Linked DNA regions of Homo sapiens: regions 1 and 2 are each linked to region 3. Evidence: fine-mapped expression QTL. A gene starts in region 3. Each other region holds a variant in brackets. All regions are shown on one strand. Distances are from middle to middle. Region 1 has its middle 27 kb from the start of TRIM52-AS1. Region 2 holds the start of SNORD96A (small nucleolar RNA, C/D box 96A). Region 3 holds the start of TRIM52-AS1 (TRIM52 antisense RNA 1).

Evidence for each region.
Region 1: its variant is fine-mapped to the expression of TRIM52-AS1 in vagina (GTEx, PIP above 0.99). The same link has a PIP of 0.9 or more in prostate and substantia nigra.
Region 2: its variant is fine-mapped to the expression of TRIM52-AS1 in whole blood (TOPMed, PIP above 0.99).

The regions. Positions count from the first base shown.
Region 1 is chr5:181,284,332-181,291,950 of GRCh38, reverse strand. No RefSeq gene overlaps it. Among named protein-coding and RNA genes, the nearest start is that of TRIM52-AS1, 27 kb to the right of the region's middle. RefSeq lists an enhancer at 7,395-7,619. The variant T/G (reference allele first, on the strand shown) is at 3,055.
Region 2 is chr5:181,235,264-181,242,882 of GRCh38, reverse strand. It overlaps RACK1 (receptor for activated C kinase 1), which reads left to right. Exons shown (of 8, transcript NM_006098.5): 2 at 538-709; 3 at 1,244-1,391; 4 at 3,301-3,396; 5 at 3,706-3,816; 6 at 4,644-4,784; 7 at 5,164-5,274; 8 at 5,841-5,986. The coding sequence ends at 5,906. It overlaps SNORD96A (small nucleolar RNA, C/D box 96A), which reads left to right and starts at 994; the gene lies at 994-1,065. It overlaps TRIM41 (tripartite motif containing 41), which reads right to left. Exons shown (of 6, transcript NM_033549.5): 6 at 7,075-7,619. RefSeq lists enhancers at 1,314-1,363, 6,677-6,756. The variant A/G (reference allele first, on the strand shown) is at 2,569.
Region 3 is chr5:181,257,353-181,264,971 of GRCh38, reverse strand. It overlaps TRIM52-AS1 (TRIM52 antisense RNA 1), which reads right to left and starts at 3,760. Exons shown (of 3, transcript NR_102762.1): 1 at 3,588-3,760. TRIM52 (tripartite motif containing 52) reads left to right here and starts at 3,829. Exons shown (of 2, transcript NM_001346048.2): 1 at 3,829-4,971. The coding sequence starts at 4,159. CTC-338M12.4 (a long non-coding RNA gene) reads right to left here. Exons shown (of 3, transcript NR_109909.1): 3 at 7,386-7,619. RefSeq lists enhancers at 1-117, 3,849-3,898, 4,079-4,128 and silencers at 3,199-3,448, 3,559-3,708.

The DNA.
Region 1 (7,619 bases), 27 kb before region 3:
ACTAAAGAAATACAACTTTTCCTCAGCTTTGCAGCAATCTAGAAACAAAGTGTGTAGACACTACAAAGCACCTTACAAGGAGAAACGTGTAAGGATGGCATGACTCGCCGGCAGCCCTGGGCTTGTCCACGGTACCCCCATGATGAACAGTAACTCCATTGTGTAAACGCCCATGAACATAAGATTACAGGACTTTTCCAGTTTAGACATACCATATTTTCTTTCAGACAATTCTTCAGTTTGTTTACATAGATCAGCGATACGATGATTCCATTTCTCTGAAAATCAAGCAAAAGTTGCTTCTCAATAATACGTCCCTATGTCAGAGCAGCACTAACGTATAATGACTGATTTCATATATTTTACATTCTAACAGTCCATATCATTTTACTGCTTTCAAGAAAAAATTTCCCCTTTTTGGTGGTTCTTAGAATGGTTTAATGGGAGACTATTAGAGAAGCTGAAAAGCAGGAGGGCAGAGAAGTTCAATCAAATTAAACACAATAACAGGGAGGTCACAATGAGGCGGTCTCCAGGGGTCTTTTAGCAAACTTCCTAAAACATGTCTCAGCTGTGTGAAATAAGACTTTACAGCAGCCGGGTGCAGTGGTGCAGGCCTGTAATCCCAGCACTTTGGCAGCAGAGGCAGGCGGATCACTTTGAGCTCAGGGCAACATAGCCAAAAGCCCCCTCCCTAGCCCCACCCCCACCCCGTCCCTACCAAAAATACAAAACAGCAGGGCATGGTGGCGGGCGCCTGTAGTCCCAGCTACTCAGGAGGCTGAGGCAGGAGAATCACCTGAACCCAGGAGGCAGACATTGCAGTGAGCCAAGATCACGCCACTGCCAGCCTGGATGACAGAGCAAGACTCCACCTCAAAAAAAAACAAAAACAAAAACACAAGGTTAAGAGGGACCCCCGACCTTACAGATACAAGTTTAAGAGGGACCTCTAAGCAAAAAATGCCAACCCTTTTTCTCCCAATCACTGAAACACCAGGAGGGTGTAACAGTTTTGCAGCCTAGCTGTAGCAGGCTGATGCCCCCCAGATGCCCATATCCTAATCCCGGGAACTGGTGAACATGACCTTATATGGCAAAAGGGGCTTTGCAGATATAATGAAGTTAAGGGTCTTTGGCTTTTGGGGTTGATGTACTCACTCGGATCCTTGTAAGAGCAGAGCAGGTGATGGAGAGGGTGGGAGGTGTAGTGACAGAAGCAGGAAACTCCAGTCATTCAAGACGGGCAGCACAAGCTGAGGAGTGCAGGCCACCTCTACGGCCAGGAAACAGATTCTCCCGCAGAGCCTCAGAAGCCACCAACCCTGCTCCCACCTTGACTCAGAAGGACTTACTGTAGAATTCTGGCCTTCAGACTTGTAAGGGAATACATTTTGGTTGTTTTAAGTCACTAAGTGTGTGGTAATTTGTTGCAGCAGCCACAGGAAACTAGTATTGTAGTGAAGCCTCAAAACCCCCCTGAAGGGGCTGGGCTCAGTGGCTCATGCCTGTAATCCCAGCACTTTGGGAGGCCGAGGTGGGTGGATCACTTGAGGTCAGGAGTTCGAGACCAGCCCAGCCAACATGGTGAAATGCCATCTATACAAAAAATACAAAAACTAGCCGGGCATGGTGGCACATGCCTGTAATCTCAGCTACTCAGGAGGCTGAGACAGGAGAATTGTTTGAACCCAGGGGGGCGGAGGTTGCAGTGAACTGAGATTCCACCACTGCACTCCAGCCTGGGTGACAGAGCGACGCTCCATCTCGAAAACAAAACAAAACAAAAAAACCCCACCTGAAGGTTTCCAGTTCTGCCAGCAGTCTCCCACCCAACCCCCAGAAGCAGACATTCCATTGCTGTGGGCCATGGACAGGCAGAAGGAAGCACCTCCTCATGGCAGAGGCCTACCCAGGAGAAACCCAAGGGAAGGCACTGCTGGGCTGGCCCCTCTCTGCCAAGGCCATATTCTTTTTTTTTTTTGAGGCCAGTTTCACTCTGTCTCCCAGACTGGAGTGCAGGGGCACAATCTCGGCTCACTTCGACCTCTGCCTCCCCAGTTCAAGTGATTCTCCTGCCTCAGTCTCCTGAGTAGCTGGGATTACAGGAGTGTAGCATGCCTAGCTAATTTTTGTATTTCTAGTAGAGATGTGGTTTTGCCATGTTGCCCAGGCTGGACTCGAACTCCTTGCCTCAAGTAGTCCACCTGTCTCAGCCCCGCAAAGTGCTGGTATTACAGGAGTGAGCCACTGCACCCAGCATTTGCCAAGACCTTTGATGGCAGGCTTTTTCCAGGTGATCAGTCCTTGTCTGGTCTGGCTCTGCCCCACTCTCCTTCTCACCTAGTTGGAATCCCTAGCTACTTTTCAGTAGAGGAGAGTGTGTACCCCAATCCCAGCTTGGTTCAGATCTGCATTTAACTCATGGAACCTGGCTGCTCCCCAGGTCCTGAAGGAAAAAACGGTCTCTCTGTGCGTATGATAAAGGATGGGCCTGTCCCCAGGACCCTGTGAGAGGGAAGCCCAATGTCCCACCAGGTTGGCAGGGCTGGGGAAGGGAAAGTGTTATGGCAGCCCCAAGAAAAAAAAGAGGCAGCAGAGGGAGCAGGACAGCGCTCACATGGAACTCATGCCACTGCCTGAATGAGGGGAGGGAGGAGTGCACGCCAGTGACGTCAGGGGGCAGAGAGGCGCAGTTCCAGGGCGGCTTTCCCCCTCACTTCCTGCCATGTTACTCTGATCGCCTCCAGGTGAGCCTGCCCACTTTGTGCCCAGGGGCCTGTAGAAAACCACAGCTCCCCATGGTTATGGCCCCAGGAGTGGGGCAGAGCAGGGAGGAGTCCTGGACAGAGGAGAGGCAGGGGCAGGAGGGAGTGGGCCTCAAACTCCAGGAGGGGGCCCTTCTCATGGGTCCTGCTTTCTGGCTTCTCCTTCCTTACACCTGGGCTGATCACTTGGGGAAGAACTGAGACAAAGTTTCTCACCCTCAGGCCCAAAGGGTTTAATTACTGGGCCCTTAGGGAGGTGTGAGCCCCCTGAAAGGATGCAAGGTTT[T/G]GTTTTGTTTTGTTTTTTGAGACAGAGTTTCGCTCCTGTCGCCCAGGCTGGAGTGCAGTGGCGTGATCTCACCACACTACAACCTGCGCCTCCCAGGTTCAAGTGATTCTCCTGCCTCAGCCTCCTGAGTAGCCGGGATTACAGGTGCCTGCCACCAGGCCCAGCTAACTTTTTGTATTTTTAGTAGAGATGGGGTTTCACCATACTGGCCAGGCTGATCTCAAACTTCTGACCTCGTGATCCACCCCACCTCAGCCTCCCCAAGTGCTGGGATTACAGGTGTGAGCCACCATGCCCGGCCCCAAATTATCTTTTAATTTTAAAGACATACATATTGTTTAAACAAGTCAATAAATAACTATATTGAATAACAAAGTGAAGCCTTCCCTTTACCACAATCAACCTACTGTTCTCTCTCTATCTGAGGCTCTCTTCCTACGTTCCACTGTCCCAGACTTCTGCAAAGTATTTATGTATCTATTTAGGTATCTGTCCATCTTTCCATTCCTTTCTCAATTATATATTCTGGTGGTTTCGCTCTCCACGTGGCAACTCTACATCCAGGATCAAAACGGCATCAAAGGAAGCTTGGAACAGTGACAACCCCTACCTGAGATGTCTCATTCCAGGGGCAAGGCTGCCTGGTGCCTGATACCCATGAGATTAGGAAAAGCAGGTGGGGTCCTGTCCACCCCTTCTATTCCCGAACGCTTGGCAGAGTTCCTGTGGCTAACATGCCAGTTGTATCAACTTCTGCGCAGTCTCATGTGAAGTGCCACACTACGTTCTCAGCCTGGGAGGTTTCAGGGCTCAGCTGGCTCAGATCCCATGTGTGGGGAGCATTAAGAAAAATATGTCACCTGTATAAGACTAGTGGCAAAAATCTGACTCAGTGCTACTTCTCTGTTTGTCCTTTACTTAAAAGGTGAACCATAATTAAAATGATCCAGAAAAGAGAACCAAGCAGGAAACTGAGTTGCTTGGGGAAAGGACCATGCTGCATTGATTTTTACATACCCAATGCCAGCAGTGCATCAGGTACACAACAGGTTCTCAATAAATTGTTAAATGGGTAAGTTGATAGAATAAAAAACAAGGTCTCTTCCCAGTGCTGCATGCAGAAAAGCTCAGTTAGAGTGAATTCTTATTTGCAGAGATGAGAGATTTTTAGTCTTCTGATGGCTGTTTCCTCCTCTCTGTTTTCTTTGCCACAGTTTAGGGGCAAAGAAAAGTTTCTCTCTCTCTGAAATGGTAGGAGAAACCCTTGGGGCTTAGCTAACAAATCAGGCTCTCTCTTTCACATGTTGTGAGAATAGAAATATTTAACCATCAGCACAGACAATGTCATTTGCATAAGGGAGTGACTTCCTGGCTGAGAGATGGTCAGAATAACATACAGCCTAGGAGTGAAGGCAGTGAAGTTTGCGAGCCTAGGGCTCTGGTTCTGGTGTCTGCTTCATGGCTGTGTGATCTTGGGCAAGTTTCCTAAATGCTCTGCTTCTAAGTTTTGTCATCCATAAAATGATAACAACAGTACCTGCCTCAAATAGTGTGTGGAAGAGGCTTAAACAAGCTAATGTAAGTCAAATCTTGAGCACAATCCCTGGTGTAGCTATACATGTTTGTGTATATATCAGAAGCTCGAAATTATACCATTAGTATTAAGAACATACTCTGGACCCTCATTATGCTGCTATTCTCAATATCCCAACACTTGATTTCTATTGACAACTCCTAGGCTCAACTGTTCCGCCCACCTCAGCCTCCCAAGTAGCTGGGAATACAGCCACCACACCTGGCTAATTTTTAATTTTTTTTGGTAGAGACAGGGTCTTGCTATGTTGCCCAGGCTGGTCTCAAACTCCTGGCCTCAAGAAATCCTCCCACCTGGGCCTCCCCAAGTGCTAGGATTTACAGGCATGAGCCACCATGCCCAGCTCCCTTCCTCCCCTTTGCTCTCCTAACTCCATCTCAGCATCCGCCCCTGAGGACAAATGCAACAGGGCAATCAGTACATCCATGAACTTCCCATCAGTCCTGTGGTGGACTAACCCAGGGACAATGGTCACTGTCCCCTCTGGTGCATTCTTTGTCCCCATCAGCCTAGTAAGCTCCGGGGCTGGCAGCTGGCACAGAGTAGGAGGCTGCACTCCCTGACCTTTCTATGCTACACACAGTCCTGTGTCCATCCTGTCCTCAGACCTGCCAGGGCCATGACCAACCTGCCAAGAGTGTGGGAATTGGTATGTGACCCAGCTCTAGGAGGAGGTGGAGCAAGCAAATATAGGGGAAGCTGCTCCCCCAGTAGGTTTAGAGGGAGAGTGGGGTGGGGGCGCAGCAGGGCCAGGCGGGTTAGGGTGTGTGGGTGACATTGTGCAGGTGAGGGTGTGCGGGTGGGGGTGTGTGGGTGGGGGTGTGTGGGTGAGGGTATGAGTGCCTGTCTGGCTCTCCTGGGTGGGGCTGGATGAATGTTTGGGCACAGGCAGCGGCTGTCACATGGCCTGGCTGTGGGTTTGAGACAGAAGCCAGGCAGGTGGGCTGTGTCAGGCACAGCTACAAACTGTGCCAAGGAAGCGGACCAGAGCAGGGGCCCAGGGAAACCTCTGCCTTAGCAGAAGATACTGGGGAGACAGGATCAATCGGGGAGGTCTTCCAAGGCACATGGTGCTTCATGGAGCCAGGGCCCAGGACAGGGAGGGCTGTAACCCTGGCTTGCCTGATTGGCTGAGCACAGACAGAAGAGGGTGTGGGCAGCCCGCCAGGTGGATGCCTAAGTGAGGAAGGAATGGGTGGCCAGGTGACTGAGACCGCCAAGACCAGGACCCCACTGTCAGGCCTGTGGCTTCCCAACGCCTGTGGGAAGTGTTCCCCTTTGGACACTGAGGCCATCGGCTTCAGCTTCACACCCTTTTCCAGACAAAGACCCTCAGGTAACCTCAAAAGTCACTTCTGGCCTTCCCCAGAGGGGAAAGGAGAGGGGTGCCTGTGGGCAGGTGACCCTCAGTGCTGGTGGAGGGCACAGCAGAGAGACTGCCTGCATATGGGAGGCCCCCAGCAGACCTTGCCCAGACATCAACCCTCGTTTGAGGCAAACTGTAAAATTATCACAATTTAGGCCAGGTGCAGTGGCCTATGCCTGTAATCCCAGCACTTTGGAAAGCCATGGCAGAAGGACTGTCTGAGCCTGCAGTGAGCTATGACTACACCCCTGCACTTCAACCTGGTCAACAGAGGAAGACACTGTATCTAAAATAAATAGGCTTGGCGTGGTGGCTCACACCTGTAACCCCAACACTTTGGGAGGCCGAGGCAGGTGGATCACCTGAGGTAAGTAGTTCGAGACCAGCATGACCAATATGGTGAAACCTCATCTCTACTAAAGACACAAAAATTAGCCGGTCGTGGTGGACCGTGCCTGTAATCCCAGCTACTCAGGAGGCTGAGGCAGGAGAAATAGTTTGAACCCAGGAGGCAGAGGTTGCAGTAAGCCAAGGTCGCGCCACTGCACTCCAGCCTGGGCGACAGAGTGAGACTCCACCTCAAGAAAATAAATAAGATGGGAAAGCTATGTTCTTAACATTTTTCAAATGATAATTCATACTAAAGAATGTTACCAATAACATTATAACTTATACCAATAACTTATAAAATAACATTATAACTTATACCAATAACTTATAAAATGCACAAAGCATTTTATAAGTTTTAGACTATTAATAAAAAGACACGAAAACTGAGGTATTTGTAATCATGCTTAATATTGGAAGTTCCTATACCTGCAATGTAGCAACTAATTATACAAAAATTTAATAAATGACAAAATAAAATTTTGCAAACAGATTTGTAATAACCAGAAAGAAATCTGTATTGGCAATTAATGTAACATAATTAAAAATAATTTGTTATGGTCATCTGCTAAATGCTAATTAATGTAAAATGTTAAAAGATTATTTCAATTATGACATCCTAATTTTTAATGGCTTGAAATATTATAAATATAAAAAACAGGTTTCTAAATTTAAAAGAAGAATGACTAAATTTTTCAGAAATATTTCATATTTCTTGTCATACAATATAAGAACACCATTCCATGTTTCCTTTTAGATTAGGAACCTTCCCTTATCTCACTGAAAGGAGAATGCTGGAAGGTGCTAGTAAGATGACAGTCTGTCTAAGGACTCCAGAACTGAAGGAATTGTTTTGTGGCAATGCATGTCACTTCCCTAACTCAACTGGAAAAGGAGACAAAAACCTAGTGTTTTCAACCCTCAAGCTAGCAAGAAAACACAGCCCAGGTAAGATCATCTCTTCTCCAATGGAGCTGGAGTCTACTCAACAAGAGGCGACCATTTAGAATAGAATTGTTCAGAAGTTTGCTAACAATAAGCAGCCAACATAGACACATTCTCCATTAAATCTAAAATTCCCTTTTCCCCCACTAGGGTGCCTGAGGGGCATGTAGCAAAAGTGATCCCAACCACACCACGCAAACTAGCCAGGAAACCTTTTTGCCTTCACACATCTGAGAGTCCCTGAGAAGCCGGAGACAACACAGAGGCAGCAAA
Region 2 (7,619 bases), 22 kb after region 3:
CCTAAATTAAGTTCTCAGGATACAGGCTGGGCGCGGTGGCTCACGCCTATAATCCCAGCACTTTGGAAGGCAGAGGCGAGTGGATCACTTGAGATCAGGAGTTAGAGACTAGCCTGGCCAATGGTGAAACCGCATCTCTAGTTAAAAAATTAGCCAGACGTGCTGGCAGGTGCCAGCTGGCCAAGTAATCCCAGCTACTTGGGAGGCTGAGGCGGGAGAATTGCTTGAACACGGGAGGTGGAGTTTGGAGTGAGCCGAGATCATGCCACTGCACTCCAGCCTGGGCGACAGAGCGAGACTCCATCTCAAGAAAAAAAAAAGTTATCAGGGTACAGTTTACCTCTACGTGCGTTTTTAGTCTGGAATAGAGCCACTCAGTCCTGGTCTGTAACTGCTCTTGTCTGTTGTTTCCATCCCTCCTTAAGCGTCCTTAGTTGTTGTTAACCCACTCATGACCTTGACACTTAGTGAATTATCCAGTGTGTTAAACGGGCTGCGGGTTCCTCACTGATTTTTCTTCTGTTTTACCTCCTTTAGATAAGACCATCATCATGTGGAAACTGACCAGGGATGAGACCAACTATGGAATTCCACAGCGTGCTCTGCGGGGTCACTCCCACTTTGTTAGTGATGTGGTTATCTCCTCAGATGGCCAGTTTGCCCTCTCAGGCTCCTGGGATGGAACCCTGCGCCTCTGGGATCTCACAACGCAAGTAGCTGCTCACTTAGCTCTGGGGCCTTGGGAAGAATCTGGGCAGAAGTGAGGTGGATGCAATTGGCTGGTTTCCCAGGGGAGATCCAGTCCATTTGGGAACTGGAAAGCAGAGCACACCTACAGAAGATGTTTGGCCTCCCTCACTTTAAATAAGTTACTCAGCATTGCTGAGGAGTGTGGCTGAACATTTTTGCCAGGTGCAAAAGTTCTGAGTGGGCAGCAGTTTGAACATGTTTTACCTTGAAAGCTCAGGTAATTGGCAGGTGGAATTAGAGGGTCCTGGTGATGACAGATGGCATTGTCAGCCAATCCCCAAGTGGGAGTGAGGACATGTCCTGCAATTCTGAAGGGATTCTCTGTCACTTGGCTCTTCTCTTTCATATACTCAGTCACTTGACTCTGTGATCAGAGCCAAATCCAGGGTTGTATGAGTGATGCAATGAGACAGAGACAAAGCCCAGGAAATGAGTCTGACCGTTGAATGAGAGTGTTTGCTAAGTCTGAGAATGACAAACTCCTCCCTCTCAGGGGCACCACCACGAGGCGATTTGTGGGCCATACCAAGGATGTGCTGAGTGTGGCCTTCTCCTCTGACAACCGGCAGATTGTCTCTGGATCTCGAGATAAAACCATCAAGCTATGGAATACCCTGGGTGTGTGCAAATACACTGTCCAGGTAAAGTGAGCCATCTCCAAGGATCTCTTCCACCCTCTTAAACTTTGCTTTTTTTTTTTTTTTTTGGCGACAGTCTCACTCTTGCCCAAGCTGGAGTGCAGTGGCGCAGTCTCGGCTCACTGCAACCTCTGCCTCCCGGGCTCAAGGGATTCTGGTGCCTCAGTCTCCCGAGTAGCTGGTACTACAGGTGCGCAGCCACCACGCCTAGCTAATTTTTTGTGTTTTAGTAGAGACAGGGTTTCACCATGTTGCCCAGGGTGGTCTCAAACTCCTGGGCTCAGGCGATTTGCCTGCCTCGCCCTCCCAAAGTGTTGGGATTACAGGCGTGAGCCCCCACCTGCCTATCTTTGCCTTTTTTTTTTTTTTTCTCGGAGACAGTTTCGCTTGTTCCCCAGGCTGAAGTACAATGGCGTGATCTCGGCTGACCACAACCTCCGCCTCCTGGGTTCAAGCAGTTCTCCTGCCTCAGCCTCCCAAGTAGCTGGGATTAGAGGCATGCGCCACCATGCCCGGTTTTGTATTTTTAGTAGAGACAGGGTTTCTCCATGTTGGTCAGGCTGGTCTTGAACTCCCAACCTCAGGTGATCTGCCCGCCTCAGCCTCCCAAAGTGCTGGGATTATAAGCGTGAGCCACCGTCCCCCGCTTTCTTTGCCTTTTTAAAGTCTTGTCTGGGCTGGGCTCACGCCTGTAATCCTAGCTCTCTGGTAGGCCAAGGTGGGAGGACTGCTTGAGGACAGGAGAGCAGCCTGGCCAACATAGTGAGACCCCATCTATTTAAACAAAATTTTATTTATTTTTTTTCTTTTTTGAGATGGATTCTGGGCTAGATCGCAGATTTGGGATCGCAGATTGGGGGCTGGATCGGGGATTTGGGGATGGGTGGGGGGCGGTGAAAAGGTGAAAGGGAGTTGCCGCAGCTCAGAAGCCGATGGTTGGGTGTCTGAGAAGATTACAGGCGTGTGCCATCATGCCCAGCTAATTTTTGTATTTTTAGTAGAGATGGGGTTTCACCATGTTGGCCAGGCTGGTCTCAAACTCCTGACCTCAGGTGATCCGCCCGCCTCAGCCTCCCAAACTGCTGTGATAACAGGCGTGAGTCACCGTGCCCGGCCTTATCACTACTATTTTGTTTTGTTTTGAGACAGTCTCATTCTGTCGCCCAGGCTGGAGTGCAGT[A/G]GTGCGATCTCGGCTCACTGCAAGCTCTGCTTCCCGGGTTCACGCCATTCTCCTGCCTCAGCCTCCCGAGTCGCTGGGACTACAGGCGCCTGCCATCAGGTCTGGCTAATTTTTTGTATTTTTAGTAGAGACAGGGTTTCACCATGTTAGCCAAGATGGTCTTGATCTCCTGACCTCATGATCCATCCACCTTGGCTTCCTAAAGTGCTGGGATTACAGGCGTGAGCCACCACACCAGGCCCTATTATTATTATTATATTTTTTTTGGAGATGAAGTTTCACTTGTTCGTTGCCCAGGCTGGAGTGCAATGGCACAATCTTGGCTCATTGCACCCTTCGCTTCCTGGGTTTAAGCAGTGTTCCTGCCTGAGCCTCCCCAGTAGCTGGGATTACAGGCACCCGCCGCCACACCTGGTTAATTTTTGTATTTTTGGTAGAGACAGGGTTTCACCATTTTGGCCAGGCTGGTCTCAAACTCCTGACCTCAGGTGATCCACTTACCTCGCCCTCCCTGGGATTAGAGGCGTGAGCTTCTGCGTCCAGCCACCATCTCTAAATTTTTAAAAAATTTTCTTGTCTGGAATCTAAAGGGATTCTATTGAGCTTAAAGGTTTGGGTTCTTGGTTTTTGAAAGGTGCTGCCAGCCATCATCCTACTGAGGGGTAGGGCTGGGAGGTCTAGCATTTCATGGGATAGGACTGTTTGCCCTAATTTCCTTTCCATCTTCTGTAGGATGAGAGCCACTCAGAGTGGGTGTCTTGTGTCCGCTTCTCGCCCAACAGCAGCAACCCTATCATCGTCTCCTGTGGCTGGGACAAGCTGGTCAAGGTGAGCGTCAAGCCAAGGCAGGGGCTTTACCAGTCAGGGTGTGCTCCCAGGTGGTCATACACTCCAAGTCCTGTGGAAAGCTTTGCAGATGCCCTCAGTTGACTCTTTCTCTTGTCACATGGTCTGATGTCCCTTGTAAGTCAGCACACTGCATTGGATATGTGTTATAATCTAACGTGAAGTGGCCAGGACATGTTACTGAATGAGAAATGGCTACCGTATCCAGAAGTGCCAAGCCCTTTTTTGTTGGGCCTGACCCTAGCTCATCAAGAGCTAGGATGTTCACCTGTCAACCGCACGTCTATGCAGGTATGGAACCTGGCTAACTGCAAGCTGAAGACCAACCACATTGGCCACACAGGCTATCTGAACACGGTGACTGTCTCTCCAGATGGATCCCTCTGTGCTTCTGGAGGCAAGGTATTTGGGGACAAGGCGTCTCCTACTCAGTGGAAGACAGCGTCATGGAAGGAGCACTTAGCCAGCGTCTCTAACGTAAAATGGCAAACATTAGCCAAGATGGTTTTAGGAGGATAATGAGATAATGGCAATCTGAGAATATGTTTCCAAAGATTACTTTCAGCAAATGACAGTTAAGGCATACTATCTGGAAGAAAAAGATGATTTTCTATAAGCCTGTGGGTTTTTTTTGTTGTTTTTTTGTTTGTTTGTTTTTTGTTTTTTTTTTGAGACGGAGTCTCACTCGGCTGCCAAGGCTGGAGTGCAGTGGCGCGATCTCGGCTCACTGCAACCATCTCCCGGGTTCAAGCAATTCTCCCATCTCAGCCTCCCGAGTAGCTAGGATTACAGGCACCCGCCATCACTCCTGGGTAATTTTTGTATGTTAGTAGAGAGGATTTTACCATGTTGGCCAGGCTGGTCTTGAACTCCTGACCTCAGGTGATCCGCCCACCTCGGCTTCCCAAAGTGCTGGGATTACAGGCATGAGCCACCGCACCCAGCCTAAAGTTGGTTTCTTGAAGCAGTTGATGAGATTGGGATCCTGGTTTTCAGAAATGATTGGAGTGATTTATGTAAGTTGGGAGGGGTTTTTTGATGGGGTTGGTAAGGTCTTACGTTAAAGGAAAGGTATACAGAGATAAATATTGGTACTTGAGTCATTAGCTTTCAAAGAAGCCTGGGGTAATGGAGGAAAGGTAAGAATTGATTCTGACAGAATCTTGAGATGGGCAGAATTAACATCTGGAAGAGGTCACAGTGTCCTGATTTACCTTACCTGTGTCCAGGATGGCCAGGCCATGTTATGGGATCTCAACGAAGGCAAACACCTTTACACGCTAGATGGTGGGGACATCATCAACGCCCTGTGCTTCAGCCCTAACCGCTACTGGCTGTGTGCTGCCACAGGCCCCAGCATCAAGATCTGGGTGAGTGTGGGTTACAATTGACTGGGTACCTGGCTGCACTCTGAGCCCTGGCAATGTTTTGGTTATTATATATGCCATCTGACTCCCACCTGGGAGCTAAGCTTTCTCAGCCTCCACGTAATGACATTTTGGTCTGAGTAACTCTGTTGTGGTGTGCAGTCCTGTACATTCCAGGATGTTTAGCAGCATTTCCAGCTTCTACTAGATGTCAGTAGCAAACCATCCTTCCACTAGTGGCAACTGAAAATGCATGTAGGCATTGATACATGGACCCCAGGGAGCAAAATCATCCCTTTTTAACTTGAGAATCTTGAGGGGCTTTTAAGAGGAGACTCTCTTGATTGGTAAGTCTTAAGGTTGCTTTTGCCCTGTTCCCCAGGATTTAGAGGGAAAGATCATTGTAGATGAACTGAAGCAAGAAGTTATCAGTACCAGCAGCAAGGCAGAACCACCCCAGTGCACCTCCCTGGCCTGGTCTGCTGATGGCCAGGTAAGTGGGTCTGTCCTCTCAGGTGATTCTGCTTCCAGTTAATTTTCTCCCTCTCATTCTGTTAGTATATCTAGTCTGTCAGACACAAGAGCAGTGTCCTTGGCATAAAGTGAAATGACAAGCCAGGTTGATGAGGATGCCCTCGTTTGCCATGCCAGTGAATGTGTTTCTGCATCAGAGGGAAGACTGATGTGGAACGCAGTGGCTGTCAGCCTTCAATTAATACCTTAATTAATCTGACCAGTTTTCAAATGTCTGGAGCCTTATCACCAGCTGTTTCTTCCTCAAGGAATACATAACCACCACTTACAAGCTGGCTGTTGAAATGAGAGCGGTTTCTTACAGTCTACCCGGCGTTGTGGCACATGCCTACTGGAGGCTGAGGTGGGAGGATCTCTTGAACTGCAGGGGCTTAAGGCTGTAGTGAGCCAGGATCGCACCCCTGCACTCCAGCCTAGACAATGGAGCAAGGTGGACGGATCTCAAAAAAAGCCACTTGGGCTGAATCTAGTGAGACTGCAGAATTTATGCCAGCCTGACCTGTCACTGTCATTTCTTCCCTGCAGACTCTGTTTGCTGGCTACACGGACAACCTGGTGCGAGTGTGGCAGGTGACCATTGGCACACGCTAGAAGTTTATGGCAGAGCTTTACAAATAAAAAAAAAACTGGCTTTTCTGACTTTTAGGTTTTTTTTTCTTATATGCAAAAAAGCTCCATTCTATCTACATTGCTTACACATTAAGTTTGCACTAGCGAACTGGATGCAAGGTATGGACTAAGTAAACAAGGCTTTGAAGGGGAGCTGTCCGTCTAAGTTCTCAGGATTGGGGTAGCATCAGGTGGGATGTTTGTGAGAAGTCACATAGCAGTTTCCCTGAACTTAAACCCCATCAGCGTCCTACATACCACGTGCAGATCATCAGGGCCTACCTTCAACCTGGGGAACCTTCTTGAGGGAAAGAACTGATTTCAAAGTGGTTGCAGTCAATTTTTAGAAAAAGCAGACTCCGCAGGTCCAACCCCTGACACGTAAGAGTGGAAGATGAATCCTCATTCCTCTAAAGATTTGAACATAATTCAGAAAACTTAAGCTTCATGTTAGCAGTCTCTGTCAACATGGTCTTTGAGGAAAGTCAAGGGTTTTTAATTCTTTAAGCAAGGCAGTTCTCACCAGAAGAACTTAATTCAAAACTAATTTATTCCTCAGGTCAAAAGTTTTGGGGTGGTTGGTCTGGAAGCATTCATAAATAGAACCATAAAGTTGGCCCTACTAAACATTTCAACTGCTACTATAACCTGGCCCTCAATCCCCCTACACACAAACACAGTTTATTCATGAGGATAGATGCCTTGTGAAAGGCCAGAAGTGAGCCATTAAACTACAATTACAGTTTCCAATAGAAACCTCAGTACAGGGATGGAATGGTTCAACATGCGGCTGAGACCCCACTACCCTTGCAATTTTCTGTGCTAAGCAACTACAGCATATTGAAGGCCCACATGCACCCTCCACTTCCTACTCCCCTCAATTTATAATGGTGATGAGGCATTTCTGGCTTCAGTTTCAACTACGTGTGGCAAACATCTCTAAGTAGACTGAACAGTTAGTAAGTTAGGTTAAGATATTAAAATGGGGAGCAGGGTCCACATCCCTGTTGAAATAGGAGCCTGCCTGGTAACAGGTGCAAAGCATGCCTTTAACTGCAACTAACCAGTTCAGTTGTGTGGCTTCTCACTGCAGGGGCGGCAAAGGAAGAAATCCTGAGTTACACCCTCACCTGAAGGAACAGACCTCACAAGAGAAGCAAATAAACATTTTATTTCCACAGCACGCCTTCCCTTTTCCCAAAGAACATGAGTTCACCTCAGCCATCAAAGCAGAGGGCGAAAGCTGCAAGTGACAAGGCAAGAGGCTCCTAGAAAAATAGATTATACCCAAGGCTCTCCTCCTGGGGACCCAAACCCGTCCCCAGGCTCCCCCTCAGAGCTTGCCAAATGGAGTGAAAGGCATGGAAAGGGGCTGGGAGAAAAGCCAGCTCCACTGAACAAAGGGGAGAGGAGCCTGGCAGTGAGCAGACCTGGGAGGGGTGTGGGGTGGGATGAGCTTTGCTCCTTGGTTGAGTGCTGGAAAAGGGAAGGGGGAAGAAATAATTTATGTTGATGTAATTAATGTAATGATGATGTAATGGTGCGTGGTTTCAATCATGGCGACCATTCCAGATCTCTCTCAAGTGAAGCTAAATTCTGGCCGGTCTATGGAGGTAGAAATTGAGGACGGAAGGAAAGTTTAGAATCCCTCCTCCCCAGGAGAATAGACATTTATTACCCAGCTCTACCCTTTGG
Region 3 (7,619 bases):
GCTCGCTGCCAGCTCTACCTCCCGGGTTCACGCCATTCTCCTGCCTCAGCCTCCCAAGTAGCTGGGACTACAGGCGCCTGCCACCACACCCAGCTAATTTTTTGTATTTTTAGTAGAGACGGGGTTTCACCGTGTTAGCCAGGATGGTCTCAATCTCCTGACCTCGTGATCTGCCCGCCTCCGTCTCCTAAAGTGCTGGGATTACAGTCATAAGCCACTGTGCCTGGCCAGGATTTTTTTTTTTTAAGATTGCATGTTGTTCTGTTGCCCAGGCTGAGGGCAGTGGCACCATCACTGCTTACTGCAGCCTTGACCTCCTGGGCTCAAATGATCCTCCCAATTCAGCCTCCCAAGTAGCTGGAACTACAGGCGCACACCATCACACGCAGGTAATTTTTAATTTTTTTAATTTATTTTTATTATTTTTGAGATGGAGTCTCACTCTGTTGCCCAGGCTGGAGTGCAGCAGCATGATCTTGGCTCACTGCAACCTCCACCTCCTAGGTTCACGCAATTCTTCCTCAGCCTCGCAAGTAGCTGGGATTACAGGCACCTGCCGCCACGCCTGGCTAATTTTTGTATTTTTAGTAGTGACGGGGTTTCACCATGTTGGCCAGGCTGGTCTCAAACTCCTGACCTCAAGTGATCCACCCGCCTCAGCCTCCAAAATTGCTGGGATTACAGACATGAGCCACCGCACCCAGCCAATTTTCTTTTTTTTTTTTTTTGTGGAGATGGGGTCTCATGACGTTGCCCAGGCTGGTCTCAAACAGCTGGCTCAAACAATCCTCCCATCTTGGCCTCTTAAAGCACTGGGATTACATGAGTGAGGCACCACACCTGGCCAAGAATTTCCTTAAAGCCTATGAAGTGGTGAGCCTTTCATTTCATGTGGAAGGTTCTGGTGGCTGCAGGATGGCCTGAAATGAGAGAGCAAGTGATCCTTTAGAGAAATGGTTTCCTTTTATCCAGTCTGAAGCTGATGGGGGTGAAATCTGGAGTGGCAGAAGTAAGGCTGGAAAGGAGGAGCTAGATCGGAGGAGAAACATCAGCAGGACTTGGCTGAAATGTGTTGGGTTTGTTCATTCGTTTATTTACTCAGCAGATACACAGGGAGTGCTCGCTGTGTGCTTGGCACTGTGGTCAAGGAACTGAGTATGCAACAAAGAAGAGAACACATACAGTCCTTGCTCTGTGCCACTCACAGTTTGGCACAGGTCCGGAGAGGAAGAGGAGGGCTCCAAGGTGTGCTCAAGGTTCCACTGGGACAGTGGTGTCCTCCCCAAACCAATGACCAATTAGTGAGGGGTGCAGTCATGCCCGTGGGCCTTCAACAGCATTTTACTGAAATAAAACAGAAAATATCAGAGTGCTTTGGATGTCATAAGGGAAAGAACACTGCAGAAATTTTCTTTCTGTTATATATGTGCAGGTCTATATTGGATCAGTATGTGCAATGTACTTCTTATTGAAGGGCAGGTAAAGAAAGAAAAAAAACCTTGTATGGGGCTGAGCGTAGTGGCTCACATCTGTAATTCCCGCACTTTGTAAGGCTGAGGCAGGACTGCTTAAACCAGGAGTTCAAGACTAGCCTGGGCAACATAGCAGGACCTCATCTCTACAAAAAAAAAAATAATAAAAATTAGCCAGATGTGGTAATGCACACCTGTAGTCCCAGCTACTTGGGAGGCTGAGGCAGGATGATCACTTGAGCCCAGGGGTCAAGGGTGCAATGAGCCATGATCATACCACTGCATTTGGCCTGGGCAACAGAGCAAGACCCTCTCTCAAAAAAAAAAAAAATCTAAAAGAGAATGGGTAAATCAGGCATAGTGGTGCATGCCTGTAGTCCCAGCTACTCCACAGGCTGAGGCGGGAGGATCACTTGAGTCCAGGAGTTTGAGGTGGTAGGGTGCAATAATCGTGACTATAAATAGCCACGGCACTTTAGCCTGGGCAACATGACGAAACCCTGTCTCTATAAAAAAATAAAGAAATTAGCCTGGAGTGGTGGTGCATGCCTGTGTTCCCAGCTATTCCAGAAGCTGAAGTGGGAGGACTGCTTGAGCCCAGGAGGTGGAGATTGCTGTGGGCCCAGATCGTGCCACTGCAGGGGGCTACAGGAGTCTAAAAGGGAGGGGACACAATTTCCCCAAATCTCCAATGTTGAGGAGTTCTGCCTACACTCCTTGCCCCAGGATGCCCCCAGCACCAAGGCCAAGAGGGTGTCTTGGCCCTCAGCACTGGGGTAGAACATCTGTACACAGAACCAGGCCACAGGAGAAGGCATACACAGAGCCCATGAGCACCAGCCCCTCTGAGCTGCGTCCAGCCCCCATCTCCATCCTCTGTTCTCTGGGACTACAAATCCAGGCCTGACCTGGTTCTATCCCTACCTGCAGAGACAGAAGACAGAAGGAGACAACCCCTGAGAAGCCTTTCCCCAGGGCCTGATTCCCCCTCCCACTGTAAGATCTCTCAGCCCGCACTTTGGGAGGCCGAGGTGGGCGGATCACGAGGTCAGGAAATCGAGACCATCCTGGCTAACAGGGTGAAACCCCGTTTCTACTAAAAATACAAAAAAAAAAAAATTAGCCGGGCGTGGTGGCGGGCGCCTGTAGTCCCAGCTACTCGGGAGGCTGAGGCAGGAGAGTGGCGTGAACCTGGGAGGCGGAGCTTGCAGTGAGCCGAGATCGCGCCACTGCACTGCATCCTGGGCAACAGCCAGACTCCATCTCAAAAAAAAAAAAAAAAAAAAAAACCTCTCAGCCCTGGATCAGGTCCCCTCTCCAGGAAAGGTGACAGAGTGGAGTCTAAATGACACTGCCCTAGGGCCCCGCTGGGGTGGAAAACAGACCCAGACAGCGCCCCCAGCCCTCCCTCCCCAGGGAGGAGTGAAGGGCATAACAGACAGCGGAGGACACCGGGACAGGAAGGAGGGGCCAGCCGCTCTCAAACTAAGTCTAAACCACGGCGGTGAGGAAGTGTGGTCCCAAATCCAGCCCCCTCCCGGCCGAGCTCACAGAGCTCAGGGCTGGAACTCGGAACCCTGGCCCGACGCAGGCGGCAGCACCGAAGGGAACTTGAGCCCCGGCCCCCTCAGGGGACCCACGACCGGGGCGCAGCTTTGCTGGCAGACGCCGCAATACTGCGCAGCCGCGGCCCCGCAAGCAGAAACAGGGCTGGGTCTGAGGCCTACGTGGAGCTGGGGCCCGACGGCTCACGGAAGGCAGCGGGGGGCACTGGGCGCCCCGGATCCGAGCCTCCCGGGCGGCAGGCCCTCCCAGCTGTGCGGCGCCCGGATCCCCACAAAGGCACCCCAAGCGCGGACGGCGGGACGGGCGACAGCACCAGGGTGGTGTCCCAGGCTTCCCCACCGCCGCGGACCAACTCGGCCCCGGCCCGGGCGGGGCTTCCGGAGAGATTTATCCCCCTTCCCTCTAACCTTCCTGGGGCTCCGGCTCAGGCTGGACAACGGCTCGGAGACCCAGTCCCCCTCAAGTGTTGACCCCCCCACCATCTAGAACCAGCCAACCCACCAAACCACCTCTCCCAAGCCGGGCCTCTTCCCGGCGTCCGCCGCTGACCTGATCAGAGCCGCTCTGCCGGCCCGAGGGAGCTGAGAAGGGGCTTGGGAATGGGGTCTTGAGGAGGGGCTGGCCGGAATGTGCAGCACTAGCCCAGCTGGAGCGGGCGGCGCGGGCGCGCCTGTCCCCCAGCCCACCCAACTCCCGGCCCGCGCGGCCCCCGGCACACCATAGAGACGTGGTCCTCCGCCGGCCTAGAGCGTCTCTCCAGAGCGTGTGCAGGAGCGAGACGTCATTTTGCGTCGCCTCGGGCAGGGTAGCCAGCGGCTGCATCTGAGGCGGACGCCGCAGTGTAGGGCACACCCTGAGGGTAGCGAGAGACGTGACAGGACCGAGCAGCTGGGGGCTGCAGCCTGCTCTGTCCCCACCGATCCCAGAGAGAGGCTGTGAGTCTGGATCTGGGCGTTCGCACCCTGAGAGAGGGGGTCAAAGCTCCCCTGCGGCCCCGAGGAAGAAGAGCAAGGTTGAGGACAGCCTCGGGTCACCAGAGTAGTTTGGAGGCAGGCCTGCAGGCGCGTCCCCGCTCCTCAGCTCCAAGCTGACGTATCTACACCTGCCGGCGGGCATTAAGATGGCTGGTTATGCCACTACTCCCAGCCCCATGCAGACCCTTCAGGAGGAAGCGGTGTGTGCCATCTGCTTGGATTACTTCAAGGACCCCGTGTCCATCAGCTGTGGGCACAACTTCTGCCGAGGGTGTGTGACCCAGCTGTGGAGTAAGGAGGACGAGGAGGACCAGAACGAGGAGGAAGATGAATGGGAGGAGGAGGAGGACGAGGAAGCGGTGGGGGCCATGGATGGATGGGACGGCTCCATTCGAGAGGTGTTGTATCGGGGGAATGCTGACGAAGAGTTGTTCCAAGACCAAGATGACGATGAACTCTGGCTCGGTGACAGTGGTATAACTAATTGGGACAACGTAGACTATATGTGGGACGAGGAGGAAGAAGAAGAAGAGGAAGATCAGGACTATTACCTAGGAGGCTTGAGACCTGACCTGAGAATTGATGTCTACCGAGAAGAAGAAATACTGGAAGCATACGATGAGGACGAAGATGAAGAGCTGTATCCTGACATCCACCCGCCTCCTTCCTTGCCCCTTCCAGGGCAGTTCACCTGCCCCCAGTGCCGAAAGAGCTTTACACGTCGCAGCTTTCGTCCCAACTTGCAGCTGGCCAACATGGTCCAGATAATTCGCCAGATGTGCCCCACTCCTTATCGGGGAAACCGGAGTAATGATCAGGGCATGTGCTTTAAACACCAGGAAGCCCTGAAACTCTTCTGTGAGGTGGACAAAGAGGCCATCTGTGTGGTGTGCCGAGAATCCAGGAGCCACAAACAGCACAGCGTGCTGCCTTTGGAGGAGGTGGTGCAGGAGTACCAGGTGAGAGAAATGAGGGAATGTGGGGGGATGAAGGGAGTGGAAAGGTAACTAGGAGAGCTGAGGAATGAGTAGCATTCCTTTCCCACCTCCTCAGGTACTTAGTTGCTAAACTTCTCTTTATTTGATGAGGGAGACACGGTGGAGAGAGATGGTCATATGGGTAAAAAAGGAGACACAAAACCATGAAGATTGGGGCAGATTGGCTTCCCCAGAGGAAGCTGAACAGATAATATGACGGTCACTGGAAGCGGACCACTACTGCTAATACTGGCAGTCTACCTAAGTGTAAGGGACGTGAGTAACAGATACCCAGTACTTCATTTCTCCCTAATGTGAGTCCTTGACCAATTCCCTGGGACAGGTACAGATAGGAATAGAAAGCCACAGTACTTGGAGATAATAGACATTTGGGACCTCAGCACAAGCAGTGTCAAAATAGATGTATTGGTAGACAGAAATGCCAGATGTGAGTCCTAAACTACTGATAGCAATTGGCCACACCCCCCCTCTGAAAGTCTGGGATTGCATCTCTACCTTCAGTGGGGTCCGTTTTCCTTCTAGAGAAAGGCAAAGCATATAAGCATCTTTGATGGATCAGAATGTGCCTCATATCCTGATCACTTTTCTTTCCTGGTATTTTATCATAGTGGAAGGAGTGCGGGATTTAGGATCAGATGACCTGGCTCTGCCACTTACTGTCTAGTCTTGGGCAGGTGTCAACCTCCTTGAGCTTCACTTTTTCCCTAGGATTGTAAGGATTAAAAGAGATCATATATGTTAACCATAAAGCACTAAACAAATGTTTGCTGTTTTATTTGGCTTTCTTGTAACTTGTCTTCCCTTGTTTGGGTGCTGATATGGTTAATGCCTTGCTTTCTAGTCTTGACTTCTAAGCATTAGATAATTGTCTCAATGACAATGAGCATGAGTACCATCTTCCTTACCAAAAGTCTAGGTAGATTTGACTCCTAGCAGTGCCCAAACGAAGGAGAGGTTGTCTTCAGGCCCATAAAGGTTGACCTGGATATGCAGCAGCCGCTGCTCACGTCTTAGTAGTGCTTTACAGTTTATAAAATATATTTCCTCGTGTTCTCCTATAGCAGTGGTTTTCAAATTGTTTTTTGACCAATTAGTGTGTCTTAAAATAAATGGGTCATGCCTAGCATTATCTCAAAATGAAGTAAGAGAAAATATTAGAACACATGGAACATAGTAAGGGTAAGTACTGCTTTATGAAACTTTTAAGTTATATATATATACATGTATATACTTCATCTAAAAATATATTGCTTTCTTTGAGTTGCAGTCAAAACACAAACACAGAGCACTGTCCTACAGGCTTCATGTATTAGATATTATTATCACCCCCCTGCCCCCATTTTATAGCAAATATTGGGAAGTGCACAGTTAAGGCACAAATCTAACCATAAGTCACTGCTACCTCTGTTACATTAACCTGACTTGAAGGACAAATCCTAGTACCATGTTTTCACCCAAGGTGATAACTAAAGTATCCCATGGAAAAAACTTATGTCCTATGCTTCTGGGTTTTAGTATACTGAAGCTGAGGAAAAGAGAGAACCTTCCATTTCTCTTCTAACTTTTTTTTTTGAGACGGTATCTTGCTCTGTTGCCCAGGCAGAAGTGCAATGGCATGATCTCGGCTCACTGCAACCTCCGTTTCCCGGGTTCAAGCGATCCTCCTGCCTCAGCACCCCTAGTAGTTGCGATTACAGGCACATGCCACCATGCCCAGCTAATTTTGCATTTTTAGTAGAGATGGGGTTTCACCATGTTGGCCAGGCTGGTCTTGAACTCCTGACCTCAGGAGATCCACCACCTGGGCCTCCCAAAGTGCTGGGATTACAGGCATGAGCCACTGTGCCCAGCCTTCCTCAGCTAACTTTTATCATCATCCCCTTCCCCCATTTTATAGTAAATATTGTTAAGTGCACAGTTAAGACACAAATCTTTTTTTATTTTTATTTATTTATTTATTTACTTATTTATTTGAGCTGGAGTCTCGCTCTGTCATCAGGCTAGAGTGCAGTGGTGCGATCTCGGCTCACTGCAACCTACGCCTCCCGAGTTCAAGCGATTTTCCTGCCTCAGCCTCCCAAGTAGCTGGGAATACAGGTGCGCACCACCATGCCCAGCTAATTTTTGCATTTTTAGTGTAGACGGGGTTTCACCATGTTGGCCAGGATGGTCTCAATCTCTTGACCTCCTGATCCCCCCGCCTCGGCCTCCCAAAGTGCTGGGATTACAGATGTGAGCCACCATGCCTGGGTGTCTCTTTCATTCTTTAGGCAGTTCATTGTCACTTCCTTCCATTGGTAAACATGTAAATTATAGTCGCATGATTTAGAATTTTACTGACCAAAGTCATAATAATAGTTAACAGTACAAGGAACTATTTTTGTATAATGGTTTATTTAATACAGTATACATTATCTTTCATATACTTTGTTACAATGTTAAAAAAACTTCATTTTTCATAATATAGGAAATAAAGTTGGAAACAACTCTGGTGGGAATACTTCAGATAGAGCAAGAAAGCATTCACAGCAAGGCCTATAATCAGTAAGATGTGTGAAAAGTTGGGTAGCCACAGGAGGTGTTCATTAAGGATATGATTCCATTTATAT